4 linked regions of the Homo sapiens genome follow. The protein of the gene in region 1 interacts with the protein of each later gene in a biochemical or structural test. Each region holds a gene or a part of one and is shown on either strand. Other genes may lie near its edges.

What was found.
Region 2: of the proteins of PARP1 (region 1) and GZMM, one has a biochemical effect on the other in vitro, tested with the Homo sapiens proteins (one study listed by BioGRID).
Region 3: the proteins of PARP1 (region 1) and IKBKG form a complex in vitro, tested with the Homo sapiens proteins (one study listed by BioGRID).
Region 4: the proteins of PARP1 (region 1) and FOXO1 form a complex in vitro, tested with the Homo sapiens proteins (one study listed by BioGRID).

The regions. Positions count from the first base shown.
Region 1 is NC_000001.11:226,366,594-226,370,093, forward strand, and holds part of PARP1 (poly [ADP-ribose] polymerase 1), read right to left. Parts: intron 1,729-3,500; coding exon 1,606-1,728; intron 1,016-1,605; coding exon 887-1,015; intron 1-886. UniProt on the Homo sapiens protein: Poly-ADP-ribosyltransferase that mediates poly-ADP-ribosylation of proteins and plays a key role in DNA repair.
Region 2 is NC_000019.10:542,748-546,852, reverse strand, and holds the start of GZMM (granzyme M isoform 1 preproprotein), read right to left. Parts: upstream 2,801-4,105; 5' UTR 2,782-2,800; coding exon 2,727-2,781; intron 1-2,726. UniProt on the Homo sapiens protein: Cleaves peptide substrates after methionine, leucine, and norleucine. Physiological substrates include EZR, alpha-tubulins and the apoptosis inhibitor BIRC5/Survivin. Promotes caspase activation and subsequent apoptosis of target cells.
Region 3 is NC_000023.11:154,561,120-154,564,619, reverse strand, and holds part of IKBKG (NF-kappa-B essential modulator), read right to left. Parts: intron 2,933-3,500; coding exon 2,836-2,932; intron 1,811-2,835; coding exon 1,667-1,810; intron 1,062-1,666; coding exon 919-1,061; intron 662-918; coding exon 600-661; intron 302-599; coding exon 159-301; 3' UTR 1-158. UniProt on the Homo sapiens protein: Regulatory subunit of the IKK core complex which phosphorylates inhibitors of NF-kappa-B thus leading to the dissociation of the inhibitor/NF-kappa-B complex and ultimately the degradation of the inhibitor.
Region 4 is NC_000013.11:40,656,642-40,660,141, forward strand, and holds part of FOXO1 (forkhead box protein O1), read right to left. Parts: intron 1-3,500. UniProt on the Homo sapiens protein: Transcription factor that is the main target of insulin signaling and regulates metabolic homeostasis in response to oxidative stress.

The DNA of each region.
Region 1 (3,500 bases):
AACCTAGAATGCTGGTCTACCTCCCTGTCTTTTAATTAAAAGGCTTCAGAATTGTAAAAAGAGAATAAGAATCCCTTCACGAAGAACCACACCTACAGTTTTCCCATCAGGAAGGTGCTCTAGGGGCAAAACAAATGACATGTGGTGTCTTACCCTGCTTGGACCCATAGGTCTATACTTTGTCCTAGGAAAGAAGCCAAGGCTCTTTCTTTAGCGATGTAAACACCTGGTACCAGACTCAACATACTCTCGCCCACCCAAACCCCTGCAACACTGCAGGGAATGGGCTGAGGACAATGGGGCACATGAGTGTGGAGATAGGCTCAAGGACCGGGCCATCTAGAAGCTGAGGCAAAAATCCCTCCTCTAGTTGGTCTAAGCGGGGTGTTCAGAGACTGTGTGTGCCAACACAGTCCACTTCAGCACCAGAGAAAAATGAACGCAAGCATTGTGTTTTTATTACAGGTGCCATCAAGCATTTCCACTTCTGAAATGGACACCGGTAATAAGTCTTCTAAAAGTTCACGCTACAAGGGTTTAGAAAAACAGAGCTCCTCTCTAGATTAAGGAGAGGAAACAAACAAACAAACAAACAAAAAAGAACTTTTGGTAAGACCCTCAAAAATAAATTTGTACGCCAAGCTGAGGTGCTGGCTTGGAAGGCTGCCTTGCAAACAAGGTGCATTATCTACACGTGAAACGCCCAAAGGTTCTCAAAGGACCACCAGCAGCAATGTCCGGGAACTTGTTAGAAAAGTGAATTATTGGGCGCCAGCCACCTGTGTTTTAACAAGCTTTCCAGGAGATCCTAACACACATGGAAGTTTGGGACCGCTGCTCTCAGGATGAGAGGTTAAGATGCTTGAGGAAGGCCTGACCCTGTTACCTTAATGTCAGTTTTGAGCTTCTCATAGTTGACATCGATGGGATCCTTGCTGCTATCATCAGACCCTCCCCTGAGCAGACTGTAGGCCACCTCGATGTCCAGCAGGTTGTCAAGCATTTCCACCTTGGCCTGGAGGAGCAAAAGAAAGCCCCCGACTTAGGTATCATGGTGAATGAGACAGACTCACCCAGGTGGCAGAGAAAACCTACATGCAGAGAAGGTCCAACACAGTGAATGGCAAACCCTCCTGCTGGTCAGGGCCAGCCTGTTACCTGCTGCACATATTGAGAGCTCATAAGGACTTTCTGGAATGTTAACAAGGCCTTGTGGCCTGGGGGAGTTGAGAGGTGGAAGAACTGTCTTTCCTCTCGTACATGCTGACATTTGGGACCTACAGTGAAGGTACTTTAGACAAATGGGTCCTGAGCCAGGAGCTGTCTTAAAAGGCAGGGAGGGAAAATGGGGAGGAAGATGCTGTTATGAGGGAGAGGCTGTCCCTCTCCAACAGCTCTTTCCCCAGTGGATTTGGTAGAACAGGGGCAGGAAAAACAGCTCTGCCTCCATCAATGTGGGTAGAAACCCAACTTCAAAACAAGGGCAAGAGGGTGGCCCTCCCAGCATTGGTGCTGCCCTCAGGGATCATGATGGGGAGGGACGGCTGCAAGGTAGTCACACCCCAGCCCAGCAGACCTGCAGTCCCTTCTGAACCCTTGCGCTACCTGCACACTGTCTGCATTGTTCAGGAGCGGAGGCTTCTTCATCCCAAAGTCGTGGGGGATCAGGGTGTAAAAGCGATTTGAGAGATCCAGGATCTGAGAGTCGCTGCTGCCCTGAGACACCGCCTGGAGAGGAGGGGACAGAAGGAATGCAAGACTGAGGGAGCAGCTCCAAGCCCCCGGCCAGGCTTTCTCTTTTAGCAGGTGGGTGCTGCAGCAGGTCCAGAAGTAGCGTGGTATGTGCACATGCCAGGACACATGGGAAACGACCAGAAGACCATCTTCCTGTTAAAGAGCAGGGCAGGACCCCCATCCTCTAAAAGCACTGCTCAACACGTGATGGGCTTCTCCCATGAAGTTTCATTTGTACAAAGAACTGTGCAGTTACAGACATTTGAAACCCCGCCACAACTATGCAAAATGTTAACTGTAAAATCTAGGTGGTGGGCTAATGACTATTGCTGTAAAATTCCTTCAACTTTTTGTATGTTTGAAACATTTTCATAATAAAATGTTGGGAGGAGGTTGCCCATCGCTATAAAATTCAGTCAGGCTCCCTGCCTCCACTGACCTTCATTGGAATTAGTTTTTACTGTACCTGGAGGTTGAGGTGGCCAGGCACAGAAAGGCTAAGCAATCCTTACACTCACTGCCAGTGTCACTTGGTGCTCTATATGCAAAGGGTGCACAAAAAATGCACAGAGATGGAAGAGCGGGGCCACTGGGATTCCAGGAATTTCGCAGACAGCCTAGGTGACCACAGGAAGGTCAAGGGAATATGAAGTGGCACCCAGCAGGTCCGAAGCCCCACGCCTGCTTCTCGCTGTGACATGGACTTCACCAAGTTGTACAACTTCCATCTGTGCTGCCCAGGTGGCTCTGGCAATGGGTAAGGATGCTATTCCAGCTCTTCTTCCTGAAGACTATTGCATGGGAAGAAGCTGGGGCCGAGGAAAGCCTTGTAAGTTCTCAGTCAGTAAGGAACAAGGAGAGAGGTTCACTGCTCAGAGCCAGCTGTAACTGAAGTTGACAGATCCGGTTCAGCGCCTTTTCTCCAGCACCAGCCAGAAAGCCCGCTGCCTGGGCCCACTTCTGCTTCCTGTGTGCTTTCCTTCTTTCTACAGGCCAGGCCTGCACCCACCCACAAATATAAGCGGAACCCTCCAGCCCCTCCAGGATGTAGCTGGAAGGCTCCGGGACTGGTAGACCTTGAAAGATGCTCAAAGAATGTTGAAATAACATGAATGAAAGAGGCTTCCATTTGATGACTTCCTAGTAACTGCAAAATAAACTCTGCCTAACTCTTAAGGACACATAAAATAAAAACCACAACACAGGTGACCCTTGAACAATCGATTTGAAGTATGCGGGTCCACTTATACACAGATGTTTTCAATAAATACAGTTAGCTCTCTACACCTGTGGGCTCTGCAGTTGAGAATTCAACCAAACTCAGATAAAAAATATAGTATTCTCAGGCCAGGTGTGGTGGCTCATGCCTGTAATCCCAGCACTTTGGGAGGCTGAGGCAGGCGGATCACTTGAACCCAGGAGTTTGAGACCAGTCTGGCCAACATAGTGAAACCCCACCTCTACTAAAAATACAAAAAAATTAGCCGGGTGTGGTGGCCCATGCTTGCAACCCCAGCTACTTGGGAGTCTGAGGCACGAGAACCGCTTGAACCTGGGGATGGAGGTTGCAGTGAGCTGAGATTGTGACACTGCACTCCAGCCTGGGGGACAGAGCAAGACTCTGTCTCAAAAAAGAAAAAGAAAGAAAAATCCCACCAAAAAAAAAAAAAAAAAATCTCAGGATGCGAGACCCACAGATGTGCAGGGCCAACTTTTCTCCTCCATGGGTTCTGCAGGGCACTCTAGGACTTGAGCATGAGTGAATT
Region 2 (4,105 bases), on another chromosome or scaffold:
TTTTTCTTTTTTTTTGAGACAGAGTCTCGCTCTGTCACCCAGGCTGGAGTGCAATGGCACGATCTCGGCTCACTGCAAGCTCCGCCTCCTGGGTTCATGCCATTCTCCTGACTCAGTCTCCCGAGTAGCTGGGACTACAGGCACCTGCCACCACGCCTGGATAATTTTTGTATTTTTAGTACAGATGGGGTTTCACCATGTTAGCCAGGCTGGTCTCGAACTCCTGACCTTGTGATCCACCCATCTCAGCCTCCCAAAGTGCTGGGATTACAGGTATGAGCCACTGCACCTGGCCATTTTTTTTTTTTTTTTGAGATGGAGTCTCACTCTGTTACCCAGCCTGGAATGCAGTGCCGTGATCTCAGCTCACTGCAACCTCTGCCTCCTGGGTTCAAGCGATTCTCCTGCCTCAGCCTCCCGAGTAGCTGGGATTACAGAAGCGCATCACCACGTCCGGCTAATTTTTTTGTATTTTTAGTAGCGACAGGGTTTCGCCGTGTTGGCCAGGCTGGCCTCAAACACCTAACCTCAGGTGATCCACCCTCCTTGGCCTCCCAAAGTGCTGGGATGACAGGCGTGAGCCACTGTGCCCAGCAAGAAATGTAGTCTTTAAATAAGTAAATTGTATAGTGCATAATTTCCTAATAAAGCTGTACAAAAATTATTTTAAATCAATCATAAATATAAAAGGATTGATTTCATAATGTAACGTAAATCAGCTCAAAATCTTCTCTGAATCCCCATCATGCTTTGAAAATCAAGTCCCCGCTTGCGGGCCGGTGCAGTGGCTCACGCCTATAATCCCAGCACTTTGGGAGGTCAAGGTGGGCAGACAGCCTGAGGTCAGGAGTTGGAGATCAGCCTGGCCAATGTGGTAAAACCCCGTCTGTACTAAAAATACAGAAATTAAGGCCGGGTGCGGTGGCTCACGCCTGTAATCCCAGCACTTTGGGAGGCCGAGGCAGGTGGATCACGAGGTCAGGAGATCGAGACCATCCTGGCTAACACGGTGAAACCCCGTCTCTACTAAAAATACAAAAAATTAGCCGGGCGAGGTGGCGGGCATCTGTAATCTCAGCTACTTGGGAGGCTGAGACAGGAGAATCGCTTGAACCCGGGAGGCAGAGGTTGTGGTGAGCCGAGATCGTGCCATTGCACTCCAGCCTGGGCAAGAATAGCAGAACTCCATCTTAAAAAAAAAAAATAGGCCGGGCGCGGTGGCTCACGCCTGTAATCCCAGCGCTTTGGGAGGCCGAGGCAGGCGGATCACCTGAGGTTGGGAGTTTGAGACCAGCCTGACCAACACGGGGAAACCCTGTCTCTACTAAAAATACAAAATTAGCCCGGCATGGTGGCAGGCGCCTGTAATCCCAGCTACTCGGGAGGCTGAGGCAGGAGAATCGCTTGAAACCAGGAGGCGGAGGCTGCAGTGAGCCGAGATGGCACCATCGCACTCCAGCCTGGGTGACAAGAGTGCAAGTCTAGCTGTGCCTGCAAGCTGCCTGCACCCTGGGCCTTTGTCTGTCTCACTTAGCTGCCTGCGTACCTTTCCCCCACCGGCTTCCTCCCTTGGTTTATGCTCGTCTCCTGCAACGGCCCCCCACCCGCCCTCTTGCCCTCCGTGTTTCCTCCGCTCTGCACAGTCTCATGCCTGGCCTGTCTCTTCCAGTCAGACAGGAGGGCAGGCCTAGAACAGCACGAGCCCTGCAAATACGGATGGATACACAGAAGCACGGGAGAAAGGAAGGAGGGATGGAAGGAGGAATGGATGATGGATGGATGGGAGGGAGGAGGGAAGGAGGGGGGAAAGGAAGAGAGAGGCATGATGGATGGATGGGTGGATACATGGAAGGAGGGAGGGAAGGATGACGGGTGGAGGGAAGGAGGGAGGTTGAAAGGAGGGATGGATGATGGATGGACGGGTGGGTGGAAGAATGGGAGGAAGGAGGAATGATGGGTGGATGGACTGGCGGAGGGAAGGAAGGGGGAACGAAAGGAGGGAGGGAGGGATGGATGATGGACCCATGGGTAGAGGGATGGATGATGGATGGGTGGGTGGAAGAATGGAAGGAGGAATGATGGGTGGACGGACGGGTAGAGGGAAGGAAGGGGAGATGAGGGAGGGAGGGAGGGAGGGAGGGAGGGATGATGGACCCATGGGTGGAAGGAAATAAAAATGGGAGGAAGGATGATGATGACTGACGGCTGGATTCCTACCTCTGTCCATCTTCTTGGGTCCCCAACTCATCAAGAGCCCCTGTCACTCAGTCCAGCTGGAATGCAGGGGAGCCGCCACCCACCTCCCTTCTCCCTCACTGCTGGGCACCTAGTCCCAGCCAAGCCCTTGGTGGTGGCAGGCAGCCAGCGGGGATCGAGTCCCAGCTCTGCCCTCCCAGCTGGGCAGTCCTAGGTCAGCATCTCCTTCGCCAAGTCTCAGTCTCCTACTCTGCACCTCGGGTGTGAGCGTGACCCCTGCCTTCTGGCTGCTGCCGGGAGGATGGGCGAGGTGAGCCGGTGGACACCACACTCTCCCACGGTCCCGGGATGTCCACTCGGGGTGAAGCGTGAGGAGCTCGGGATGCCCCAGGCCTCAGTCCCCCTCCAAACAAGGATGAATCTCCGCTCTTACACCCAGGATGTCGGCGCCCGCGCCCACCCCTCCCATCCAGGGACCCACCGAGAGCGCTGGGCCTCAGTGTCCCCCCTGCATCCCGGCTCCCACTCACCTACTGACAGGGCCCCCAGGGCCAGCACCAGCAGTGAAGACACGCAGGCCTCCATGCCGCTGTGGAGACCCAGTGTGGGTGCTGGCCCCGGCCCCGAGCCTCCCCACACGCGCTTCCTGTGGGGGAGGTGAGGTGACGGTCACAGCCCCGCCCACCGCTGCACACCCTCCACCCTCCATCCTTGAGCATTTTAGAAAGTGTTTCTCAAAGAGGACTCGAGATGAAGCCACACTACCATCATCACACCTGACAAAGTAACACTTTTTTTTTTTTTTTTTTTTCAGAGATGGAGTCTCGCTCTGTCGCCCAGGCTGGAGTGCGGTGGTGCGATCTCGGCTCACTGCAAGCTCCGCCTCCCGGGTTCACGCCATACTCCGGCCTCAGCCTCCCGAGTAGTGGGACTACAGGTGCCCACCACCACGCCCGGCTAATTTTCGTATTCTTAGTAGAGACGAGGTTTCACCATGTTGACCAGGCTGGTCTCAAACTCCCGACCTCAGGTGATCCACCCACCTCGGCCTCCCAGTGCTGGGATTACAGGCATGAGCCACCGCGCCCGGCCACTACTTCCTGCCTCTGAATTGGTCTCTAGGGACCTCCCAGGAGTGGAATCACACAGGACCTGTTGCGTTGGCGTCTCTCCCAGCATGACGTCCTCAAGGTGCATCCAGGCTGTGGCCTGTGTCAGAGCCTCGCTCCTTTTTGTGGCTGTGTCACATCCCATTGTGTGGCTGGACCACGCTGTGTTTATGCATTCACCAGCGGACGGATATTTGCGCTGTTCTAGTTTTTGGTCTTCATGAATAAAGACACTGGCCGAAGGCGGTGGCTCACACCTGTAATCCCAGCACTTTGAGAGACTGGGGCAGGAGGATCGCTTGAGCCCAGGTTGGGGCTGCAGTGAGCCGTAATTGCACCACTGCTCTTCAGCCTGGGTGACAGAGCAAGACCCTGTCTCAAAAATAAATAAATTTAGGCCGGGCGCGGCGGCTCACGCCTGTAATCCCAGCACTTTGGGAGGCCGAGGCGGGCGATCACCTGAGGTTGGGAGTTCGAGACCATCCTGGCCAACATGGTGAAACCCCATCTCTACTAAAAATACAAAAATCAGCTGGGCATGGTGGTGGGAGCCTGTAGTCCCAGCTACTCAGGAGGCTGAGGCAGGAGAATCACTTGAACCCAGGAGGCGAGATCGCACCACTGCACTCCAGCCTGGGCAACACAAGACTGTGTCTCAAAAACAAAACCAAACCAAACCAAGCAGCTATGGATGATCCTGAGACCTGGGTGTGGCTGTGCCAGTAACACTTCACTCACAATAGGGGCGGACGCCAGGTTTGGTCCCGAGGGCCATGGTTTGCTGAGACCCCAGGGCCCCA
Region 3 (3,500 bases), on another chromosome or scaffold:
GTAAGGTGCCGCGGCCAGCTCCTGGGTGGGGCTCCAGGTGGCATCCCAGTTGTGGCCACCCAGCCCTTCATCCTGGGCTAGGCAGGCGGGAGAGGAAAGCGCAGACTGCACGGTCCCGGGCACGTCCTCGGCAGGCAGTGGCCTTGCACTGGCCGGCCCTACTCAATGCACTCCATGACATGTATCTGCAGGGTGTCCATATCAGGGGCCTGATACTGGCACTTGGGACAGCAGAAGTCAGGTGGCTCCTCGGGGGGGCTCCTCCTCTGGCTGGGCAGGGCCAGGGGAGAGGAGAGGTAGGCTGGGAAAAGAGAAGAGTCAGAGGGAAGGGGAGGATGGAGGGGGACGGAGACTTGGCAGGACTGTCAATGGCAGGCCTGGTCTCACAGGCCACTCATGTAAGACCAGGAGCCGCCGCTACCACGGCATGCCTCCCTTAGCCTCGGGGAAGGGGGTGGGCTACCGATGGGGTGGCCTACACGAGCTCCCGCCGTCAAGTCTCCAGAGAGCAACAGGAAGGTCGAACTGTGACCTCCCGCGGCGCAGCACCTGCCCTCCCCACCCACCTCCTCCCGCAGGCCCAGTTCTCGCTCACTCACCAGGGGCGGGGGGCAAGGGGGCCTGGGAGACCTCGACATGCCGCTTCCTCATGTCCTCGATCCTTTGGAAACAGAAACCGTCCAGTCAAGCCACGCATTTCTGTAAAGCTCCTTGGCTGGACTAGTGTCAAAGCAGCTCTTGGAAGCTCAGGTGAGAGGAGAGGGACCACAGTGAGCCCTAACCCAGAACACCAGGAGCCATCCGTCTCCTGTGGTCACCACTGGCAACCCCCCAGTGTCGCACCCACTGCGGGGTCACCACTGGCGACCCCCCAGTGTCGCACCCACTGCTCACACGGGCACGCTCTCAGAGGCCCACCTGGCCGACTCCTGACAGCTGGCCTTCAGTTTGCTGTACTCCCTCTGCAGCTGCTCCAGCTGCTCCTGCAGGAGCTCCTTCTTCTCGGCCAGCTTCTCCCGGGCCTGCCTCTCAGCCTGGAAGTCCGCCTTGTAGATATCCGCCTGGCAAATCCAACAGAAAGGGATGTGCCCGCCACAAGCCAGCCACCCACCAGGCACTGCGCCAGGCACCACAGGAACAAAGCAGAACCCACTGCTGTCCTCCCAGAGCCCCCAGCGGCGCAGAGGAAACAGATACGTCGGCGAGTAATGCCAAGCTCACCGAGAGGTCTAAGGAGCAGCACAAGTGGCTCAGAAGCTTACGAAAGGCCACTACAAAATGATGCCAAAGAGGCCGGGTGCGGTGGCTCACGCCTGTAATCCCAGAACTTTGAGAGACTGCGGTGGGCAGATCACCTGAGGCCAGAAGTTCGAGACCAGCTGGGCCAACATGGTGAAACCCTGTCTCTACTAAAAATACAAAAATTAGACGGGCATGGCGGCAGGCGCCTGTAATCCCAGCTACTCAGGAGGCTGAGGCAAGAGAATTGTTTGAACCCGGGAGGCAGAGGTTGCAGTGAGCCAAGATCGTGCCACTAGTGGCACTCCAGCCTGGGCAACAAGAGCAAAACTCAATCTCAAAAAGCAAAAGCAAAAAAAAAAAAAAAGACGCCAAAGAGACTCTCCAGGTCCCAGTGCCAGGGTGGGTCAGAGAGGAGGGCCCTCACCTGGGCCTTCAGCACCGGAACGGTCTCCATCACAATCTTGTGCTGCTCGGCCTCCTCCTTCAGCTTATCGATCACCTCCTGTTTGGCCACCAGGGCCTCCTCGGCCTGCTGGAGCTGCTGTTTGAGATCTTCCAGCTGCATTCCCTAAGGACGGGCAAGGGGAGCTGACGGAGCCTCGTCAGCCCAGGGCGAGGCTGGCTGAGAAGAACTGAGAAGGATGAAAGAGTGGCCCTGGCTGACCAGGCTGGGTGATGCCAGCCCCTGATTTGAGGGCCCATTGCAGGATCTCAGCGTGCACAGGGAGATGGCTGCGTCCTGTCACGGCCCAAAACGACAGAGGAGATGCTGAGGTTTTTTTCAGGACTGAAGAGGCCGCTGAGGTCATCTGGTACAACCTCCCAGCTGGGCCGACATTCCCTTCCCAGAATCCCCAGCTCCACAGCCCTCCTCCCACCCTTCACAGGCCACAGGCCACACCCACTCACAGCCAGCCGGTCCTGTGCCCGCCATGTGCACAGCTCAGCTGAGAGCCCTCAGTCCTTCCACTCTGCCACCTGGTCAGAGGTGCACTCCTCCCACGCAGGCATCTCCAGCCCCCTGAGACACACACAGACACACCCCACCAACGCCCCCCTCCAGAGATTAAGTGGCCAGTTTTGTAGCTAACTCTTCCCCATGTGACCTGGCTTCAGGCTTTGTCCTTATAAATCTCCTCTGGGTACACTTACGATTGACGGTGTCCTGCTAAAATGTGATCACTAGCAAACTGCACCCCAGCTTAGGTCTGATGAGGACAAACTAGGAAAAGGCTCCCAGCCAACACTGGGGTGGAAATGCTGTCGGGCTTACCTTGGCTTGGGGGAAGCTGAGCCAGGTGCCAGATGGCGATGGCTGGCAAGAGGGAATGTCCATGGAGACAAGACGTCCCCAGCCCCACAGAGGGAGCACCCCAAGGCTCTGGCCCAGCCCCCCATTAAGATGGCCTGCTGACACTCCTGAGAGCAACATCCTGGGGTTGCCATCTCCCCACAGCTTCCCTGAGCTGTCGCAGCTGCAGCCTGACACAGGTCTAAGGCAAGTCTAAGGCAGGTCTACCCATTCTCAAGGTTCAGGGCCACGGGGAGAGGAAGAGGCAAGGCCAGCCCTAGAGCCCCAGTGGTCGCACTCACTCGCTTCCGCTCACTGCCCACCACGCTGCTCTTGATGTGGTTGTCGTATTCTTGGAAGAGCTGGTGATAGGCCACCTGCAACTGGGCCAGCTTCCTCCTGAGGAAAGGGAGCTTTTGCTGGAGAAACCACCTCATGCCAGTCCAGCCACGGTGCTGCCTGCTTCCAACTCTACCCCCTTCCTTCCCTCCCTCGCATCACAGGCCTGGAATGGGGTCTTCCAAGGCTGTGTGAGGACTCCTGAGGCCGTCAACTCTAAAGCAGGCTTTGGTGGGCTGGTCACCAGGCAGTTAATATCGTTTTCCTAAAAGCTAGTATTTTTAATGTTTATAATAAAATCGCGGCCAGACGCGGTGGCTCACGCCCATAATCCCAACACTTTGAGAAGCCAAGGCAGGAGGATCGCTTGAGCTCAGGAGTTCAAGACCAGCCCGGGCAACATAGGAAAACGCCACCTCTACCAAAAATGCAAAAATTAGCCAGGTGTGCTGGCCTGCGCCTATAGTCCCAGCTACCTGGGAGGATCGCTTGAGACCAAGAGGCGGAAGGTACAGTAAGCCGAGATTATGCCACTGCACTCCAGCCTGGACGGTAGAGCAAGACCCTGTCTTGAAAATAATAGTAATAATACAATGGAACTACCCTGCACTGTTCAAAACTGTGAACT
Region 4 (3,500 bases), on another chromosome or scaffold:
AAGTGTGTTCCTAAGTAGTTGCATTTTAAAATTGTTTAATGTAATCATATTTTCATAATTTCTTATTTGGCAAAAACAAAGATATCATTTGATAAATTTGGTCCATAACACAGCATTATTTTCATAATATGTCCTTTCTACCTATACTTTTCAAACTGTTTGTGTATTTCACATGCCTATCACTCTGAGAAATTTTTTTTTTTTTTTGAGACCGAGTCTCTCTCTGTCGCCCAGGCTGGAGTGCAGTGGCACGATCCAGGCTCACTGTAAGCTCCGCCTCCTGGATTCACACCATTCTCCCGCCTCAGCCTCCCGAGTAGCTGTGACTACAGGCACCCGCCACCACACTTGGCTAATTTTTTTCTGTCTTTTTAGTAGAGACGGGATTTCACCGTGTTAGCCAGGATGGTCTCAATCTCCTGACTTCGCACTCAGAGAAACTGATGCTTCCCATATTTTCAGGCCTTTATGAATGCCAGTCCACCATCCCAAAAATATATCTTGAAAATAAGATGAACTAATGGACAGAAAGATGTGCATTTACACAGATATATGATCAAGCAAGCATAATGAAATGTCATTAGTAGAAAAGGTAGTAGAAATTCTTCCAATTTTGCTGAATGCTTGAAAATTTTCATAGCGAAATCGTAAGGGAACAATCTCCCATCCTTTTTTTTCTTTTTTTTTTTTTTTTGAGATGGGAGTCTTGCTGTGTCGCCCAGGCTGGACTACAGTGGCGTGATCTCGGCTAACCGCAACCTCCACCCCTCCAACCCCCTGCCCCAAGTTCAAGCAATTCTCCTGCCTCAGCCTCACAAGTAGCTGGGACTACAGATGCATGCCACCACACTCACTTAATCTCTTCTATTTTTAGCAGTGACAGGGTGTTGCCATGTTGGCCAAGCTGGTTTCTAACTCCTGACCTCAAATGATCTGCCCACCTTGGCCTCCCAAAGTGCTGGGATTACAGGCATGACCCACTGTGCCAGGCCCAATCTCCCATTTTCAAAGCCTGGTTCAACGGCCAATACAGAACTTCATTTTTCTCTAAGACACTTAACTCTTCCCACTGTATATCATAGTTACTTACACATTGCATCTAGTCTTCCTACTGGATCTATGTTTTGAGTCATTGCTACCACTCAAAAACACCTAGCACATCTTGTACACAGTAATTATTCAACAAATAAATGGAAAAAAAAGGACTCTGACAATCTGTTGAAAACAAAATAATCACTGTTCTTTAGTTATACTACTTCTTAAATTATTCTCACATGATACAGACTGTGATATTCTCAACACACAGGAAGCTGAAATATAAAAGACCCATGTATCAAGAAAGAATTTTTTTCCTAACAACATATTTACAATGTAACTGAGAAGCCAAGACATACAGACATTAAAGTTAAATTATATATAATACACAGCAGCATGAATTAAAAGATTACCAGATATTCACTCAGAGGACAAAAATTCCTCTGGGTAGGAGCCAAGATTGGAAGTTGGTGAACTGACTTGAACCTTGCACACTGAGCAAGATCTGCTGAATTTCAGGGCTCAAGATGATCTAAGCTCTGGGGACAGGAGCGTCTAGGCCTGAAATACTAAAAGCTAAACGAGGGGAATGGTTAGCGGGTAGGAACGGAAAGTCTCAACAGACCCTGAGAAAGAAGAGTTAACAGACTTGGGAACACTAAACACCAGGAGAGTGCTCAAGAAGACACCAAGGTTTGAAAACTAGGGAAAGAACTAACTAGACCATTAACCCAACTGGGGACCTTGAAATGAGCCATCTGAGGGCAGGGGGAAATACAGTATGTTCAGTTTTAGACATGCTGGATTTGAGATAAAAGTGGGACCTCCAGAGCCTTTAGGTAACTGGATACACAAGGCAACAGAGAGTAAGTTACCTAAGAAAATACCAGAGAAAAAGTCCACAACTAGTCCTGAGGTATACTTATGAATGAGGATAGGAGAAGGAAAAATAAGCGAACCAACTGGAGAAGCCAGATGGCAGGAGGACCATTGTAATGGAATCCAAGATAAGAAACGATTTCTCAAAGCAAAGCTAAGAAAAGGAAGACGTGGCCGGGCGCAGTGGCTTACGCCTGTAATCCTAGCACTTTGGGAGGCCGAGGCGGGTGGATCACAAGGTCAGGAGATGGAGACCATCCTGGCTAACACGGTGAAATCCCGTCTCTACTAAAAATACAAAAAAAAATTAGCCGGGCGTGGTGGTGGGCGCCTGTAGTCTCAGCTACTCAGGAGGCTGAGGCAGGAGAATAGCGTGAACCCGGGAGGCGGAGCTTGCAGTGAGCCAAGATTGCACCACTGCACTCCAGCCTGGATGACTGAGCAAGACTCCATCTCAAAAAAGAAAAAGAAAAGAAAAGGAAGACTTAGGCTGGGCCCAGTGGCTCACGCCTGTAATCCCAGCACTTTAGGTGGGCAGATCACGAGGTTAGGAGTTCGAGACCAGCCTGACCAACATGGTGAAACCCTGTCTCTACTAAAAATACAAAAATTATCCAGGTGTGGTGGCATGTGCCTGTAATCCCAGCTACTCGGGAGGCTGAGGCAGGAGAATCACCTGAACCTGGGAGGCAGAGGTTGCAGGGGGCTGAGATCACGCCACTGCACTCCAGCCTGGGTGACAGAGCAAGACTCCGTCTCAAAAAAAAAAAAAAAAAGAAAAGAAAAGAAAAGGAAGACTTAGACACACACACGCCCAACTCTCATAAAGAGTGTAGCTTCAGGGATCATCAGAACAAAAACCAGAATTGGGGGCTACACAGGCTAATTCCCTAAACAGCTCTCCCTTGATTTTTTTTTTTTCCTGTAATGAATATGGCTTGAAATAAAGGACACATTTTGAACTTATGTCCTTATTAAAGTAATAAGTGAAGGTAAAAATTCACTAAATTGTATGATGAGGAGCTGCAGATTTACCTTTTTAGTAGTATTTGACTTAATATCAAAACTAACTTGCTTTTTTGTTTTCCTTTTTAGTTTTTATCAAAACTATACAAAAATGGATGAAAGAAAAAAAAAGTAGCCCAAATGCCTGCCAAGTAGCAAGAATAAGTCAACCCTAGATTCAACTATTGGCGGTGCTTAACCTACAAGTTGATAAACCACAGGGAGAAGACGGAATAGAGTAAACTGGGATGCTAATGAATAAAGCAAGTTTTTAAAAAGGCTGAACCATATAAAATAGCCAACGTACAAAAATGTGTTTTTCATGTTTCCTATGTTCCTTAGAAGACTACAAATAACAAGTAGTAATACCTACAAAAGAATTTCTGTGCCACTGACTTGATTTTTGTTCATCCTCATCAGCAACTGGCAAAGAGGAAGATGTCTTCCACACTCTAAGTATTTGTACACAGCATATCCCTTAGGCATCAAAATACATACTTTTTCAAGTACATGTGGTCTTCTGTTTCACAGCTGAGGAACACCACCAGAAGCATCAGAATTCTTTATGTACCAAGAAAAGG